3 separate regions of the Homo sapiens genome follow, and all the other regions are linked to region 1. The links come from fine-mapping of genetic effects on gene expression. A gene starts in region 1. Each other region holds a variant in brackets. All regions are shown on one strand. Distances are between the middles of the regions. Region 1 holds the start of SAMD9L (sterile alpha motif domain containing 9 like). Region 2 overlaps VPS50 (VPS50 subunit of EARP/GARPII complex). Region 3 overlaps VPS50 (VPS50 subunit of EARP/GARPII complex).

What was found. PIP is the estimated chance that this variant, and not a neighbour inherited with it, causes the effect.
Region 2: its variant is the best candidate, but not a certain one, in a credible set for the expression of SAMD9L in skeletal muscle (GTEx, PIP 0.57).
Region 3: its variant is the best candidate, but not a certain one, in a credible set for the expression of SAMD9L in Th17 cells (Schmiedel 2018, PIP 0.56).

What each region holds. Positions count from the first base shown.
Region 1 is chr7:93,145,492-93,151,948 of GRCh38, forward strand. SAMD9L (sterile alpha motif domain containing 9 like) reads right to left here and starts at 2,894. Exons shown (of 5, transcript NM_152703.5): 1 at 2,703-2,894; 2 at 1,392-1,655; 3 at 1-549. RefSeq lists an enhancer at 2,094-2,193.
Region 2 is chr7:93,311,129-93,317,585 of GRCh38, forward strand. It overlaps VPS50 (VPS50 subunit of EARP/GARPII complex), which reads left to right. Exons shown (of 28, transcript NM_017667.4): 20 at 38-144. Among named protein-coding and RNA genes, the nearest start is that of VPS50, 82 kb to the left of the region's middle. The variant C/A (reference allele first, on the strand shown) is at 3,692.
Region 3 is chr7:93,259,227-93,265,683 of GRCh38, forward strand. It overlaps VPS50 (VPS50 subunit of EARP/GARPII complex), which reads left to right. Exons shown (of 28, transcript NM_017667.4): 9 at 324-406. Among named protein-coding and RNA genes, the nearest start is that of VPS50, 30 kb to the left of the region's middle. RefSeq lists an enhancer at 1,803-2,304 and a silencer at 2,149-2,351. The variant CA/C (reference allele first, on the strand shown) is at 2,451.

The DNA.
Region 1 (6,457 bases):
GCAAGAGTCACGTTCTGGAAAGCAGCTATGAGGAAGCAGAGCTGTAGGCAGAACAGACTTGGTCCTTGTTCAGTTTGCCGGAGGATATACTTGTTGAGAACGTATTGCATAAAACAATGATATCACAACCAATTAAAATGCAATAGACTGGACTGCTGCTGAGGAAATGTTTATGAAACAGATTTTCCCCCCAACTTTCTACTATGAAAATGTTTGAACATACAGAAAATTTGAAAGAATAGTGAAAAGAATACCCTTCTCCTAGGTAGCATCTCTTTGTGTACTTACTTCTAAGAAAATAAATAAAACTCAAAAAGTATGTGACAGGTACACTTTATCTCTCTTCCAGCATTCCACATTCAATGTGGAGCAAATCCTATGGGGTGTATCTTCAAAATATACCCAGCATTTGACTACCTGACACCACTACCACCTGGTCCAAGCCTTCCTCATCTCTTTCCTGGATTATAGGAATAGCTTCCTTGCCAGGTTCCCTCTTGCTGTTATTGATCTCTTCAGGGACTTCTCAAAAAAGCAGCCGGAATGACCCTGTTAAAATGTAAACATCATATCAATGTTGTGTCCAACCCTGTCTGTGGCTTTCCATCTGACAAGGCCTCACACAATCTGGTACCCTGCTAATCCTCTGATATTAGGTCTTTTATTTTTCCCTCTAAATCTGGCCCAGTCCCCTGACCTCCTCGTTGCTTCCTGAAGGAAGCACCTGCCCCTGTTTCCAGCCACTACACTTGTTTTCCCTTCCTGGAATGTCCCTGGATACCAGCAGGGCTCACTCTTTCACTTTGTTGAGATCTTTTGTCAAATGTCACCTTCTCAGCAAGGCACTGTTTGGCCAGCCTACTGAAAACTTTATCCCACCTCCCAACATTTCCTATCCCTCTTCTGGCTTCATTTTTTATCTACTTAGGACTTACAAGCAGCAAATATTTTATATATTTTAACCTATTTATTTTCTGTCCAACCCATTATTCTATGCACTCCATAAGGACAAATTTCTTTACATTTTGTTCATTATCTGGCATTGCCTAGCACATAATAGCTTCTTAACAAAAATCTGTTAAATGAGTAACACATTTTCTTAGAGTAGTTAAAAGTAATGAATATTTGAAAGGCCTTGAGCTACCAGTGTCTGTGGGTCAAAGGACTTCCTCATTTTCCTAGGGAAATTATTTCGCTTGGCTGGAACTCCAGGTAGAAATCTGGGGAAATCTCTTTACTGTGCTACCCGTTAGGCCAGAATGAACTCCAGCTTCTATCATCTGGTCACAAATAATGAAAAGGAAGTTTTTTTTTCAAAAGGAAAGCAAAACAAATGAATATATTTTCTCCTGCAGTTTTTGTAGATACCCTAGTTACAGACTACACCTTACCAACTTTCTGCTGTGTCACTCACAGTCACCGAATGAGGCCATTTCTCACACAGCGTTTTCCCTGGAGGAGGTCCCTTTTGACTCTAGGTCCCCAGTGTCTTAAGACCTTTGCTGTTTTCACCCTCTGCCTTTGCTGGGAAGCTGCTCTTCTGGCAAGGGGCTTACACTTTCCACAGACACAGTCTGCTCGGGTGAGATGCAATACCTTCTTTTAGCTGGTGTCCTCTTTCAGAAATTTAACCAGCCAGTCTCTCTCTGGAAATGCTAAAGATGGAAAAAACAGACTCCAGATTTTTTCTTTCGTTTTAGCCAGTACAATTTTAAGAGCATCTGGATGTATGCTGTTGGAACTAAGTAACAATCAAAATGACCATGATTAGTGTGGACAAATTTTGTGATTGCCTTGACTTAAGTCTTGGCTTTCTAGGGGCCCTCAGTGTCCTGTTTTGAAACAATTGTGAAGACAAATATTATCTTTAGCAACGTTGGTTATTGACAAAGGAGTTGCAGGTTGGCATCCTCAACACTTCAGTTTTCTCTCTTTGATGCTCAGCAAGAATTTCCAAGTCAGCAAACTCTCAGGGACAAGCCCACCCCATCTTTGAGAGACCCTCAGCAACACCGCTGATATCCATGCCCTAGGGAGGTGTTCTGCTCTGCAGGATTCTTAGAACTGATGTAGGGGAAACACACTTCAGAATCTGGCTGTAGCCCAGGAGAGCTACCCACACCCTCCTTGCATAGTCTGGCAGACAGAAGCCACACAAGCAAGTTAGTTTCGTTTTCCTGAAGAACACTTTGCATTTTTTTTCTTAGTTTTCAACCAGATTGCTGGATAAGATGTATGTGAATGAAATACTTTAATAGAATAATATTTAGCCTCTGCAGAGTATTAACTTTGATAAAATGTAAAAGTTTTAATAACATCTTACGTTATGAAGACAGAATTTTGTGTAATTACACAAGATCACACGTTCCTTTAGAATCTTCAGTGCTTAAATTCCTGACCCTGTTTGCATCGTTTCTCTATCCTCTTTTCCAAAGCCTGCCTGCCACAATCAGAAACCCTCCCACTATCCTAATTACACTTAATGGTATGTTTCTTTTTAGAAGAGCACTTACAAAGTTATTATCAGTTAAATATACTGACATGTATTTAATCCATTGATTTTTCTAATTACTCTAGTATTTTTATAAGTAATCGTTTATGTACAAACATATATTTATATAAAAAGTACAGCTGAAGTTTTAAAAAATAGCTGTCGCCTCAAAAGCATAACAAATAAAGGTTTAATGATTCAGTTTACTTACCAGGATTTTCCTGAAAATGTCATCGTTTTATATCAGAAACTTGAAACAGGCCATTTGAACTTTTGCTGTCTCATTCCTCTTCTGATGGCTAGGAGACATGAAGTGTAAGGATCCTTTTTTAAAAACTGAGGCATTAAATTGTGAAGTCTTCTGTTCTCCCAGTACTCTGACTTTCTGAGGGTGTGTCAGAGTGCCAGTTGAGAAGCAGGAGGAAGTTGAAGTATAGACAGTTTCAGTTTTGCTTTAGAACATTCTTTTTTCTTGAGTTTAGAAGGATCTGAAATGTTTTTTAATCAATAACATTACCAAAAATATCAATAAATTTGAATCACTGCTTAGAAACTGTTTACCAGGCAGATTTTTAAGTTATAAGAGTTAAGGAATAAGGAAACAACAAACAAACAAACAAAAAAACCCAGTGACCCAAAAAACTACCTACAGGACAAAGAGAATGGAAATACCAGGGAGAAAATTAATATGTCAGTGCAATCTAAGTTCCTGTTACTGGTTGAATTGTGTCCCCCAAACATTCATATGTTAAAGTCCTAATCCTCACTCCCTCCAAATGTAACTGTATTTGGAGATAAGGTCTTTCAGGAGATAATTAAGTTAAAATGAGGTCATTAGAGTGTCTGTAATTGAATCTGACTGTGTCCTTGTAAGAAGACGAGATTGGGACACAGACACATACAGAGGGAAGACCATGTGAAGACACAAAGAAAAGATGGCCATCTACAAGCCAAGGAGAGAGACATCAGAAGAAACCAACCCTGATAATGTCAGAGACATTCGAACCAGAGTGACTCCATTTTGAATGAGGGCTACGAAAATGAGGCTGAGACTTGCTGGGCTGCCTTCTCAGAAAGGTAGGCATTCCTAGCCTCTAGATGTTTATGATTAAGGGAGCAAATTAATAATATTTACTAAGCAGACCGTGACTTGGGAGTGTCCAGATATCCCAATATCTGGAGAACAGAGGCATTCTTAATTTTGCTTTAAAGAAAATAATATTGATTCTTGCAAAATACACTAATTAAGAAAATTAATTCTTTATCAGAAACCCTTGTAGCAAAACACATCTCTCCATATATACAAGCATTGTACCTAGGGTGGATGTGTTCCTCCTCTTACTTTCGGGAACGTCCTACTCTGTCTGTGGAGTAGCTGTCCTTTTACCACTGTACTTTCTTAATAAACTTGCTTTTACTTTGCACTGTGGACTCGCCCTGAATTCTTTCTTGCATGAGCTCCAAGAACCCTCTCTAGGGGTCTGGATTGGAACCCTGGTCCTGTAACATTTCTGGCAACCATGAGGGACCGATACTGAAGAACCTCCCCACCAACCCAAAGGAAATGGACTATAGCACTGATTGGATGACTTTGGGTAAGTGGTGGGGTACCCGGGTAAAGAATGGGATTGGGTTAGAGGCCCAACTTAGGGGAATTAGAGTCTCTCCGAAGACAGGGTGAATTAGAGACCCCTGTTAATAAAAGGCAAAGATGCTTGACTGACCTCGGATTAGAGGACCAACTTAAAAGGTTTAGAGTTCCTTCTAAGATTTAGGGGGTTAGAGGGCCCTCTCAGTAAAGTCCCTCTCTGCTAAAAAAGGGTTTGGCACTGCAGGCTATGCACTTTGTATTAATCTGCCTTGTCCTCCTTGCTGCATAAATCAATTTCTTGGTTGCTGTCTGTGTTTCACTGTCATTTTCGGGAGACTTTATCTAAATGGTCTTAGGGATTTTAACTTACTCTTTTCCTATGTGCCTCCTGATTTCCATGTGTCTGCTCTTGAAACATTGGGAACAAAAAGCATTGACGGCTCCGTCTTTAAAATTGCTGATTGAGATTTGGTATTCAACAGCTATGAGCAATAAAATTAGATTATGTTTTGTTGCTGCTATGCCGACTAGGTGTGATCGAGAAGCACTAGGATGGAAATCAGGGGACTCTGATGTTTTGTTTCACTTTGCACACTAAAAACACTTCTTTCCTTTCTTGCATTCAGGCAAACCGGCTTTGCTTGTTCAATCCACACTGTCTCTATTGCCCAGAACCTGCTTGCTCTGGTCATTCCCATCTAAATCCTCTTCATTTCCCTTGCCTTATTCAACATTTTTGTCAAAGTCCATGTTGTGGTTTATCTAAGATTCATGACTCAGCTCACTTATGTTATTTGGATAATGTGAATCATGTTTGATGAGAGGAAAAGAGGAAAAAAAGCTAGACATACTAGATGATCCTTTAATGCAAGCAACCTTGGTTCAGCAGGCAGTTTTGGGTGGAGCAGAACCTCCTTCTGTCAGCTCTGAAGGTTCAGATGTGTCTGTCCTTTCTCCCTCTATCCCCTTGGAGAACCCTTTGTCCCATCCTCCTTACCCATCTAGCCCCACTCTATACCCACCACTCCCTGAGGAACTTAGCCTGGTGAGTACTACCCCTAGTGGAGCCTCCTATCAACCTCCAAAGGGAAACCTTTGTCCACTTAGAGAGGTGGCAAATGGGGAAGAAGGCACTGTGAGAGTACATGTTCCCTTTTTTTTTTTTTGTCTGATTTGACTCTATGTAAAGAGAAGTTTGGTGATTTCTCTGAAGACCCAGGAAGATTCATAGATTAATTTGAGAAATTAATTCTGACCTATAGTTAACTTGGCAGGATCTCCATGTTTTGTTGTCTCTGTGTTGTACAGTGGAAGAGAAACAATGCATTTTGGGGACAGCTAGGGCTCATGCAGATGAGGCATTGGCTAACAACCCAAACCATAATACATATCAGGCAGGAGGTAGAGCAGTTCCAGATCAAGATCCAGAGTGGAACTATCAAAGGGGCAGTGACAACTTGGGGAGGAGCGATCATATGGTCACTTGTTTGTTGGAAGGGATGAAGAAATGTATGAAAAAGCCTGTTAACTATGAAAAATTAAGGAAGTTTCTCAGGACAAAGATGAGAATCCAGCTTTGTTTCAAGGGCATTTAGTTGAGGCAATTAGGAAATATACTAACACTGATCCTGCTTCAAGGGAAGGACAAACCCTTTTGAGAGTACATTTTATAACCCAGTCTGCCCTTGATATCCATAGGAAACTAGAAAAAGCAGCTATGGGTCCCCAAACTCCCATATGGAACAGCTTTTGGATATGGTATTTTTAGTTTTCAATAACAGGGACAAAGCAGAGGAAGCAGAAGGAGTAAGAAGGACCTCCCACAAGGTGCAGCTCTTGGCTGCAGACTTAAGCTTACCTCCCACATGGGGTTGCCCTCCTGGTTCTTGGCCTGAACAAGGGAAGCTGAAAGGTGGGAAGTCAGAGTCACCTTGCCTTGGGCATTAATCAGTGTGCACACTGTAAGAAAACTGGCCTTTGGAAGAGGGATTGCCCAGTGCTCTGAAGGGAGCCATTGGCACCTGAAGCAATGATGGCTGAAATAGCCAGGCAAACCCAAGAGTGACGGGGTCTGAGACTTTCCAGCACAGCTCCCATCAGACAACTAGTTATTATCTCTGGAGAAGCCTTGGGTAACCCTTGACGTGGCAGGTAAGAACATTAACTTCCTTCTGGGTTGCTTATTCTGTTTTGACCCATTATAATGGGTCTCTGTCACCCCAGAACTGTATGGCCATGGGGATAGATGACAAGCCCATAGATGCCATTTTACCTATCCTTTAAGCTGCTCTTCAGGGACCTTGCTTTTCTCCTGAATGCCCCACCCCTTGTTGGGAAGGGATTTGTTAACTCAGCTGCGAAGAGTACTATCTTTT
Region 2 (6,457 bases), 170 kb after region 1:
CAACTCTAGCAACTCTGTTTTGTTTTTCCATATCAAGTGTTTCTCGGGAAACTCTAAAAAGCAGGAAGAAATCAGATTACAGTCTAAATAAAGTGAATGCACCTATCTTAACAAATACAACATTGAACGTCATAAGACTTGTTGGTAAGTAGCTACACCTTTAAAAAAAATTATAACAGTTAAATTAGTTTGTTACCGAATGACTTTTACTTGTGGTTTTTATTGTCTTGTATACTCCAGTGCTCTATGCAATGAGGGATTTAAGGTTATCATATGTCAATGCTTCTCATTTTAAATGTTCCAAATACTATAATACTAATAGTAATGCCAGTTTTTCTTTTTCAGTTACCTGTTTATTAAGTCTTTGTATCTTACAATTTTTCTAAAATATTTCAGTTAATTGAAATGCGATGAAAAATTCTCTAGGTAGGTTAGAGGTATGTGTAAGATAAGTTAGTACCAGTTTCACATTTATACAATATTTTTGTACTTAGTTGTTTCATAGGTCTTTACCATCTTCTGTCAGGCAGAGTGAATAGTGACTTTCTGGCATTTTCAGACACAAGGGATTTACAAGCTAAATGTTCAGATTATAGGAAATGTTGTTTTTGTAACAGATAAGACCTTTATTGATGATTTTGTAGAAGGCAAACAATATGAAGAAATGATATTTTAAATATTCAGGTTTTAGGATGATGTGGATTTTTTTAAAATCAGTATTTCAACATCTTGTATGCTTTTAGCCTTTGTATCTCACAAATAAGTCTATGTATTTGACAAATAAGTTATAGAGATGTCTTCTCCTATTAAACTTCATTGTTCCAAGCAGGAATTTTAGTGGTTTTCCATAAAAATCTCTATATTCTATCTATGGAGATGGTATTTACCTATTGCCTAGTTTGATTAACCTTAGCTCTGTTGAAATAGTCTGTGTTCTTTAAGATAATTCTTAAATTTAATTAATGAATAGGATAAAATGTACAGAATGCTTTTTAGGAGTCACGGTTTCTCTAGAAAGAGCAAAAAATATTACTGAATTGAGAAGAACAGAAAGGTATACCTTTTCATGATGCTCAGAAAAAAGGATAGATTCTAAAAAGCTATTCTGTGGCTAATTATTGCCAGGGAGCTAAGCTTTTCTTCTTCTTCCAAGAGAACTGACTGAACATAGTGTCAGAAATAACTCTCGAGAATTTGTAGAATCAGAATTGGGAGAGTGCTGAGTGGTCATTGGTGTAAGTTGCCATGAAGTCGGTTGTCTTTCTGTAATGTCTCTCATACATGGTAGCTGTCTAGCTTCTGTTTCATGACTCCCAGTCATTGGAAACACAGTGGTTTGCAAGACTACTCATTCTATCATTAGACTGATCTCATTAGTAGAAGTATCTTCCCTAAGGTAAACCAAAACCTGTCTCTCTGTGATTCTAGCCTTTGGTTTGTCCTTTTGGTCTAAGAGTTATGCCCTTAGAAGCAAGAAGAATAAGTTCGTGCATTTTTTTCTTCTATTTCTTCTATTCTTCTATTTCTTCTATCTTCTATTTCTTCTATTCTTCTATTTCCTCTATCTTCCATTTCTTCTAATTCTTCTATTCTTCCATGTGATCACTTTTCAGATATGTGGTGGTAGTTATCGTGCTTCCTTTTCTCATACCGACCACCCCACAATCCATTTTTCAGGCTCCATGGGCTCAGTTCCTTTATCTTGTCCTCACTGATAGAAATTCAGACCTTTCAGAATCATTGTCATCCTCCTTAGCCTTCTAGACTCAGCAGTTTTCAATGTCCGAACACATTCCTTGAGATGTAGTCAGCTTTTGCTAGATTATGTTGAAGTAACAAGCAACTGTTGGTGCATCAAGACGTTCAACCACAAAGTTTTATTTTTCACTCGTGATACGCATTGTCTCCTGTTTATATGCAGCTCTGCTCCGTGTGTCTCTTCATTCTAAGATGTAGGTTGAAAGAATAGTACCAACCAATCTGGAACATGGGGAGAAGAGCAAAAGCAAACTATGTTATGACTCCTGAAGCTTCTGCTTCCATGTGTCACCCTTGACTTCCTCTGACATGTCATGGCCAAAGCAAGTCAGGCTTGGCAAAGGGAGGGGAGAAGTATGCTTCTGCCGCAGGAAGCACTGCAAGTCAAGGGAAGTGGGCAGGGCTGTATATTGCTCTTACAGGGAATTGGGAAAAATAATATAATCAAACACATCTAAGCAGTTGTTTATATTTTTTACCTTACCTAGTTCAAAAGGGGCTGGAGGTAGTCATGTTGCTGTTTACGCTGAAGGCATATTTTCATTATAATCAAATAAAATAAAATACAAGGCTAAGACAAAGTTGAAGAGTGGGCACATCATGCTTTATCATATCATATTTAATGCAGACATCAAATACAATGCTTAACTTCTTGGTAGGCATAAGGGAATTGAAGAAACAATATATACCACTATCCTCGTTATCTGAGAAAAAGATACAGGCCTTTATAATAATGGTAGAAATATGTTCCTGGTGCTGAATTCAGATGTTAGTAACAACAAATTTTTGTATGAGGATTACTGATCAACATAGTGGGCCTTGCTTTTGAACAGTGGGTTTGTAGGAACTGAGAAAAGCCACATTCAAGACCCTTTAAAGTAAAGTAAAGTATGGCACAGTCCTGAATAAAGCCTTACTCTGTGAAGAGAATTTGACTATTGCAATTTCAGCTTTCTCCACTACCATATCTTTTACTGGACTTGCAATTAGGAAACAATGCCGAGTATGACAATTTAACTTTTATATCTTCTCATTTAGGACTGGGATTAGGTGCTGCCATTATCACCCCAGTTGGGATCCCCAGTAGACTTTTATGCCTATCATTTTCTCTCTCCCTGGGATGTTTTTATCTTCAGTTTTTAGATATATACAAAACAGAACTTTAAGGAAGCCACTGTCTCAGAGGCCTCTGACTAGCAAATGCACTATTCCATCCGCTGTTGTTATTGCATAGAAGTGCCTGAAGATTATAAACTGGCAGAGGTCATGCTTCTTCCTACAAAGGGAGAAGTACGGTTGTGTAAATAAGACAGATTAATTTTTGGTGCTTGAGAAGATGAAGGAACTAATTATTGAGTATTTGGGAAACCATATTAGAACATTAAAGGCATATTTAAAATGTCCTTTTCAAGTAGTATTTACTTGGCAGATAATTAGCAGAGCGTAAACAAAAGAGTGTTAATGGGGCTTCCTTACCCCAGGTGGTAACTAAATTTATTAGAAAGGCTCAGGGAGGCTTTGCACTAGTGGAGAGGACTGATCAGAACAGTTGCTTGTATTATATAAAGAGAAAATTCTGTCATCCTGATGGTTTCTTGCAGACAGTGAAAGAGAAATTTTAGGAAATGTGTCTCATCAGTGAAATAGCCTTGGTATTCACGGTTCTCTCTCCTGGAAGCAGCTTGTGAGCAGGTGTGATAGGTCTGAGGAGCAGGAGCTAGATTACCGAAGTCCATGCTTGTAAGAACTGCCGACAACAACAAAATTACCACTTTAGTAGCTAGAAAAAATATACCCTAGCACCCTAGCACATGCATCAGTATTTAAAATGAAACTAGGATATGTGCATCTAAGGGATATTTAGGTATAATGTGCCTGAGATGCAGCTTATGTGGTGGAGAGAACACAGGCATGGGAGACAAGAGATCCACTC[C/A]TTCATTAGGACATTCTTTTCATTGGGGGAAGGTCAAATACTAGATGACAGACTGCTGAAGTTTCTCAGCAGTTTAGTTTGCTGGCATATTCTTTATCATTGAGCATTTTAAATTGAAAGGTGATGCATAAAAATGGTTAAAAATTAAAATACCCCAAGGTATAAGCAGAGCCCCTGAGCTGCAAGTCTCCTTCCTCAGACAAAACGACTCAGTTTCTCCTGTTTTCTTCTGGAAACATTAGTGTTAGTACAAATATATTTAATACGTATATCTCCTCTCTCCTATTTTTTTTTGTTGTTGTTTTGTTTCAAAAATTGGATTACACTATTTATACTGTTTTTTATCTGGATTTTTTACTTAAAATATCTTAAGGTTACACTTAAAATATCTTAATGTATTACCTATCTTAGTATGTGTGGATTTCATTCTTTTTTCCTATTGTATAGATGTAATATTATAAGTGCCACAATTTATACATCTTCTACTTTTCAACATATAGGTTAAGTCATTTCATACTACAAACTGCCACAGCAAGTATCCTTGAAGAAATATCTTTGTGTATATACAGATAGAGCTATAGAACAAATTCCTATAAATACTTCCTCTCGCTGGATCAAAGAGTATATACATTTCCAGTTTTGATGGACATTCTCAATTTACCAATGAGGTTACTAACGAGCTTACTAAAAGAGTTCTGTTAAATTACTCATTCATTAGCAGTATTTGAGGGTAGCTCTTTTCTTAGTCTCAGCAACACTGTGTATCCTCCAGCTTTGGGTACTTGCTAGTCTGATAGGTTAAACATGGCATCTCATTCAAAAATGTATTTAATTATGAGTGAATTGAAGCATCTTTTCATATGCTTAAAAGACATTTCTATTTACTTGCGAACTACTTATTCATATCCACTGCTCATTTTTATATAATAAGGAAATTATAGGTTTTAATTTCAACATTAAGGAAATCAGTTCTTTTTTTGCCATGTATATTGCATTCATTAGTTTTAGTCCACCAGATTTTTTTTTTTTTTTTGAGTCACTACTTTGTTTCTGGCTAGCTGTTGGAGTTACAGTCATGAAGAAACCATAGTCTTTGTACTTTGTACTTAAGGAGTTCAACAAGGGAAATAAATACAAAATAAAAAAATTTACAGTGTGTTGTTATAAGCATAAATAAACAGAAAAGAGGCAAGAGAAAGAATGATGATTAATTTTCCTTTTTGGGTAGGAAGTGAAAGGACTGACTCACTATGGGGGCTGACACCCTAATTGAGTTTGAAAGATGAATAGGTTCTCATAGATGAAGTTGGTAAAGGCATTTTGGACAGAAAGAACATGTGCAAGACATGGTGTATTCAGAGACTCCAGTTGTCTAGTTTGCTGGAATGTAAGAAACATGACGGGGCCTGGAGGCAGAAGCAGAGGAGATGTGACGAGAAAGATGGGCAAGAACAGGATATGAGAAGGCCTCAAAGACTGTCCTATGCAGCTTGGACATAAGCTCCTTAAGGGATTTCTAACAGGGGAGAGACCCCAGCAGATTTGCTGTTTTTAAAAAAAGTGTAAATAAGGGATTGACTTTGGCTAAGGGGAAACTGGAGAAGGTCAAAGACTGGATGGCAGACTGTCGAAGTCTCCCAGGCAAGGGATGATGAGGACATAAGCCTGGATATGGATGGCAGTGGCCATTGTAATATAGAGAAGAAGATGGATTAGAGAGATTTTAGAAATACAACAGACAGAATTGGTGAATCAGTGATGAGCGATCACTCAGATTTTAGGTTTGTGTGATTAACCAGTTATAATGCCAGAAATGAAAAAGGGAAGATGAGAGGAAGACCAAGTTTTCCGAGCTGATGGTAGGGTAGACTTTGGACATATAGAGGTACCTCTGGGACATTTAAGTAGAAATAGTCTATAGGTAGTTACATAGATGGATGTGGAGGTCAGGAGAAAAAACATGATCAGGATACATAATTTGAGTCATTGTTTTAAAATGACTAGGAAGGACTAGGACTTCTGTCTGATTTTCTATGAACTCAAAAGGTTAGTGGATGAGTTTATCTTGGCAGAGGCTCTTAACAATTTGAGTTCATAGAAAACCAGACAGAAGCTCTACTATCCTTCCTACCCACTTAGTACACACAAAAACATGCAACACAAGATAGCTGAGTGGAAACCTAGGAAACAGCAGTGGATATGGATACACTGGAAGGGCAAACAGCAAGATCAGTCAGTGAAGAAGGTCATGAATCAACAGCAGAAAGGCAGGAGGAAAATTAGGAGGTGAAGCAGAGGTCTTGAAAACCAAGGCATGAGGGCCTATCAAGAAGAAAGAAGGACTGTGCTTTATTGCTTTATTCATCTTTTATGGTGATCTAGCCTTTGATTTTTAAATTTTGGCATGCGTCAGTATCACCTAGAGGGCTTGTTAAAACACAGATTGCTGGCCAGGTTTGGTGGCTCATACCTGTAATCCCAGCACTTTGGGAGGCCAAGACAGATGGATCACTTAAGGTCAGGAGTTCAAGAGCAGCCTGGCCAACATAGCAAAACCTTGTCTCTACTAAAAATACAAAAGTTAGCCAGATGTGGTGGGGCACTCCTGTAATCCCAGCTACTTGGGAGGCTGAGGCATGAGAACCCAGGAGGCAGAGGTTGCAGCAAGCCAAGGTTGCAGCAAGCTGAGATCGCACCACTGCATTCCAGCCTGGGTGACAGGGCAAGACTCTGTCTCAAATAAACAAACAAACAAAACACCGATTG
Region 3 (6,457 bases), 110 kb after region 1:
ATGTTAACAGTTAAAGAAAACCTTTCCTGTGAAGCAGCTAATGATTTAATGTAGGATTTATCCATAAGTCATGGAAATGGTCTCAGGGGGCTGTTACTTTGAAGGAATAGAATATTTTAAATATTTCTTCTATGTATATATTTTAGGCCTGGAACTAGTTGCCTCTTATATTTTGTCACTTATCTATCATTGATATTCTAAGAGGAATTAAAGTTTTTTGATTCTGTAACTTTTGGTTAGAATATGAACAGAGATTTTTTTTTATCAGGGGCTTTAAGAAAAAATGTTTCTATTCCAATGACTCCTGTTGTTGTTACCTTAAGGAGGAAGATTATCCAGGAGCTATTCAGTTGTGCCTTGAATGTCAAAAAGCTGCCAGCACTTTTAAACATTACAGTTGTATAAGGTAAGGTCATGTAAATGTTTTAAAGCAGATTCTGTTGTCAGCTTCTTATGTAGCAGCTGTGTAAAAATGTTAATAAACATTGAAAATTAGTATAAAGTGTTGTGTTCTAGTTTAACATTCATATTTATATATGGGCAGTACAATAAAATTATAAATAATAGGCTTTAAGGTGTGAAAGATCAGATACTTTTCATTCCTGCTTTTTCTTGTCACCTCATTGAAACTCATTTTTCATATTTTTTCCAATCCAACTGATTCTATTTTTATAGAGTTGTAGACAAGAATAAATTATCTGTTCATATCTCCAATGCATCTCTTGGGAATTCTTCCTTAACTTTGCCCAGCTTATAAATATTGAGGATATTATTGCAGCTTGTTTTGGAGATCCAGATGGTTCAAGTGTTTGGCTCATCATGATAAAAAGTCTTTTGGAAAATTTAAGTATGGTTTCAATTTATATAATAATAATGTTTGTAATAGTTAAGTGATTATGTATTCAATGTGTTATGTCTTTTGTTTATTATTAAATATACAACAGAAAAATAGCCACTGCATATTTTGCTATTATCTCTAACTTTATTAATAGCATTTTGGTTTGCTTAAAATGAAGGATTTGCATTGCTTGTGACAGTCTTGGGGAAGCTCTAATCCCTAGGTGTAATTTCCAACATTCCTCTAGAGCCATCACAAATAAATGTACAATCTAAGTAAAATAGTGTGCTTGCCAAACAAATCTAGTTTCGAATTAAATTCATACCCATCCCAGATTGCATCCCCTTTGTCTCTCCTATATGGAAATTCTGACATTCAGTGAGCATGACTCACTGTTGTTGTAGATGTTGATTGCTAGTACCTGAAAACTAAAAGAATTATAATAGAGCAAAACATTAATATAAGTTTGAATTAATTTTTAAAAAATTATCTCATATTACAAGTCTTTGCTGGTTATAGGCTAAGGGCTAGATATTTTCCTCCCAGAAATGCTGTTTAAGTCTCTATGGTTTTTTTTTTTCTTTAAAATGTGCAGATTGAAGTTACATGTTTTTTTGTTTGTTTGTTTGTTTGTTTGTTTTTTATTTTAAAGATGGAGTCTCACTCTGTCGCCCAGGCTGGAGTGCAGTGGCGTGATCTTGGCTCACTGCAACCTCTGCCTCCTGGGTTCAAGCGATTCTCCTGCCTCATTCTCCAGAATAGCTGGGATTACAGGTGCACGCCACCATGCGCGGCTAATTTTTGTATTTTTAGTAGAGATGGGGTTTTGCCATGTCAGCCAGGCTGGTCTCTAACTCCACCGCGCCCAGCTTGAAGTTAACACATTTTTTATTTGGTTAGGATATAAATTGAGTAGTACCAGTGATACTTTCATTTTGTCCATTTTGAGAGTGATTAACTGTCATTAGTAGAAACTTGACGATGTCATTTACACTTATTAGGTTAAATAAATAGAGAATTAGTTTTAGTGTGTTGAATGTATTTAGAGATTTCCAACAAGCCATTCTGGGTCCTGAAAAAGCAAATCCATTTGAACCAAAGCATCCATTTAGTTCATTTTGTAGTGATAAATCTGTTATATAGTAACAGCTTATTGGGTGAAAATAATTCAGGCAGTTTACAGAGTGTTTATGCCAGGTACTTTGCTTTGAAATTGTCAGTATGGTGATAAACCACATACAGTGTAATCAGTATAATCCTTGGTTTCATAAAGAACATAATCTATCAAGAAGGACTTATATTAAAGTAGGCACCCATAAAATTAGGCTGTAGGCCGGGCGCGGTGGCTCACGCTTGTAATCCCAGCACATTGGGAGGCCGAGGCGGGCGGATCACGAGGTCAGGAGATCGAGACCATCCTGGCTAACACGGTGAAACCCCGTCTCTACTAAAAATACAAAAAAATTAGCCGGGCCTGGTGGCGGGCGCCTGTAGTCCCAGCTACTCGGGAGGCTGAGGCAGGAGAATGGCGTGAACCTGGGAGGCAGAGCTTGCAGTGAGCCGAGATTGCGCCACTGCACTCCCACCTGGGCCACAGAGCGAGACTCCGTCT[CA/C]AAAAAAAAAAAAAAAAAAAAAGAAATTAGGCTGTAGAGAGAAGGAAGTTGTGCATACAGTGGAAGCATTCGGATCTAACTCTCCTTCCGGGATCAAGACTAAGGAGGACCTGAACGAGGAGCAGGAAGACTTGAGGTAGGCCAGGATATGAGAGTTGTGAATAGGAAACTGTCTACACCAGAAATGAAATCTTTGTTGCGGAGTTACCAAGCAAAATGAAGACTGAAAATATGTATCTATTGGATTTATAGCAACAAAGAAGTCATAGTTGACCTTTTGGGGACAGATTTGGTGGGAGTTGGTTGAACTATCAAGTGTAAGGTGAGGAAATTTTGTGATGAGGACAGATGCAGAATTAAGAAGAGGAAACCTCAATATTGGAAAATTGGTAGGAGAGAGTGAGAAGCTGAAAATAAAATAGCATAATAATATACTAAGGCTTTGCAGGGATTATAGCAGAGATTGACTTTGAAAAGGTCACTGTCTGTTATAATAGGAAAGAATGAGCGTGGAATTTGGTGGCAGGAAATTGAGGGAGCAGGTGATGTGTTGAAACTTTTATATAATTAAAAATCTATTTTAGCTATGCTAAAGTAAATGTCTTACATGATGAGTGTTAACTGTAAAAAATGTCTTTGAAAGAAATTCTTATTTGGGCTTTTAAAAATTGATATCAAGTGGCTTCTCAGCACTTTTTAAATTAATGGATATACTGATATGTGGAGGAGGTGTGGCTACAGTTATCGAATGAGGTTAAAAGGTTGAAATGGAAAAGATTTAAATTAATAGTTATTTTAGGTAATACAGTGTATAAGAAGCATGCTATGTTTAGATATGTGAGTCATGCATGTGATAATAAGAAGAATTGGTCTTATTCTCTGCAAATAGGTAAAAGTACATCACACATACATTCAGATATCCCAAGAAATTCTTTGTAATGGGGTTTTACTTTAGGTATCTTAGGAAAACTTAGATAAAGTTGTGTTTTTAACTTGGTGATTTAGTGACAGTGTCAGGGTGACTCAGAGAGCAGGGCTATCAGTTGGAGCTGTCTGGTGGTGATGATAGCCCCTCCGCTAGCATTTCTTCTCCACCCCATACCAGCACAGTATCCTTTGCCAGCCACCATTCACCTGCCTAACACCATTCCCTCTTTCACTTCACCTGTTGTTTCACTCTTTTGTTTATATGGGAGAACATAATAAGTTTGTTCACTTCTTTTGTAGATGATATAATGTGGGATATAAGGATAGAGTTAGTTGACATGTGGGTCACGTTGAGTCCACAAAGATAAAAGACATTGTTATTCTAACATTCTTTTATTTTTGTCTTTATAAATTAGATACACCTCTTTTTTTTTGTTTTTTTTTCTGTGCGTTTTTCTTTCTTTTGCTCTGTTTCCTCTGGTCTTCCCAGTACAGTGTTGCACCTGTTCTTGAGCTCTCTAGTTGGGCCTACTCATACAGGATTCATCCACACTTTTAAAATGTATTTAATTGACTTGGGCTTGTGGAACTTAGCCGAAGGCAAGATTTAATCTTTGCTTGGACATGAGTGAATTAGAGTGAATAAGCATTTTACATTCTAGTAATCTTAGGAGCAGTAATTAACTTCCAACTGAATTTATATATTCTCAATTTTAAAAACATTTATATCTATTCTAATTCTTGTTGATAACTAGAGAATCATAAATGTTTTCCTTTTAGAAATGATTTTTGAGAGAATCACCCCATGATATAGAATATTTCTGAATTCTGATGTGATTTTTAAAAAATATTTTAAGCAAGTTTATATGCACAGTATACCTACTTGTCTACTTGTTAATTTTTTCTTGGCAGATTATGTGTTCCTCTTTTCTTTCCTAGTCACATCACTCCTTTATTGGAAATAAGGTTTTTGTTTTTGGTAGAGTGCAAACTCTCTAAGGAGAGTTACTTGGAATAGCTGAGATGGAAAAACTTAGGACTGACTCTTATGATTCTGAAAATAGGAAAAACAATTTACATATTTGCTTCTGCATAAAGAAATACTGACTCTATATCTTGTAAGTCTCAGATTATATGACTAGGTAGTTTAATACATGAAATGCCAAGTATAATCGGCTCTCTGTATCCATGTGTTCTGTGTCTCTGGATTCAACCAGCTGAAAATGGAAAATATTTGGAAAGAAAAAACAGCAACAAAAATAACAATACAACACAAAAATCACAATGCAATCATAAAAATAATAAAAATAAAAAATAATACAATATAACTGTTTACATACATTTGCATTGTATTAGACATTATAAGTAATCAAGATGATTTAAAGTATAAGGAGGATGCGGATAGGTTATATGCAAGTACTGTGCCATTTTATATAAAGAACTTGAGTATCCGTGGATTTTGATGTCTATGGAGGGTCTCAGAATAATCCCCCACATAGACTGAGGAATGATTATCATATAATGATGCACCCAGTTGGTTGAAAAATGAAACAGAAGTGGCACTTCCTCTGCACCTGTCTTCCTTAAGATGTGCCATGTTTCAGCATCTTTAATAAAAGATACAGTAATCCCAGTTTTGTTCACTTTTATAACTGAGAGAACATTTTTACATTGTTTGATATTTCCTGAGTTGATTGACAGAGAGTCATATAGTTGGGATTTATTGAGAATAAGAATCAGAATGTGTTTATGCTAAAGTGCATCTATGAATGAAGTACTTAATTTCTTTTTCACTTGAAATTTGTCTCAATTTGTTTCAAGGAAAGTTAATTTTAAAAGTCAAAACTGCTTTATTATTGTATTTCATTTGAAAGAAACTACTTGAGGGAGCCTGATAGCTTTTGTATTATGCACTGTAAGGTTTGCATACTGCTGAACTAGTTTCTTGAGTACTGTACTTTAACATAAACAGATGCATTAAATGTCTCATAATCTTTCAAGAATTCCTTCATTTTTTCTCAGAATATGATCTTGGTAGTTTAGTGAAAATTGTAGGTTGTAGAATGTCTTTACGTCATATGGCAAATGAACACAGCTGACAAATATAGCAATACTGGGAACTTTTCTTCCCCTATTGCATTAATTTCTTTATAGCAAGGTGTGCCTGCTTTCTTCCTCTAAGGTCAGGGACATAAGGAGCCCTGCCTTGAGTAATGTTTGAACATTGATTGTTTCTGCTAGGTTGCCAGGCCTTCTAGCTTGATCCATTGTCTAGATCCTGAGTGCTTGTTGGTTGGTCAGCTTGGACCAAGTTTTGATAACACCTGCACTCCTCATCTTCTATTTTAACTTGTTTTTCTCTGCCTCCCTCTGCCATGCTGTGCTGTTTTAAATAATGTAAAATAATAGTTTCACATGACAAAAATCCTAATAAACAAGAGGGTTTTAAATAAAAAGCAAACAGTTTTCTTTCTGCCCCATTCACCCGTCACTTTCCTAATCCCTGGAGTAAACCACTTTTACAGCTTACTAATTTTTTAAAAATAATTAAAAAATATATACATAATATATATATACAGACACATATACACACATATATCTCTTTCCTGTTTTAACTTTTATCAGTTCACCAACTAAAAGTTCTGCTGAACTCTAGCATGGGCTTGGCAAACTGTCTTTAAAAGGCCCGATAGTAAATATTTTAGGTTTTACATGCCATACGTCTCTGTTGCAACTATTCAACTCTGCCTTTGTAGTCTGAAAGTAGCTGTAGACAAAAAGTAAACAAACGGTTGTGGCTATGTTCTACTAAAACTTTATTTAGAAACACAGACTGCCAGCTGGATTTGGCCTGTGGGTTCCGATCTGTGATCTAGAATTACAGTTAATAAAGTTGGAGATGTTTTGAACATATTATTATTGGACTCTGAGCTTTGTGGTGATAGATTAGGTCAGGGATTTCTTTCTTTCTTTTTTTGGAGACAGAGTCTCACTGTGTCACCCAGGCTGGAGTGCAGTGGTACAATCTCGGTTCACTGCAACCTCTGCCTCCCTGATTCAAGTGATTCTCCTGCCTCAG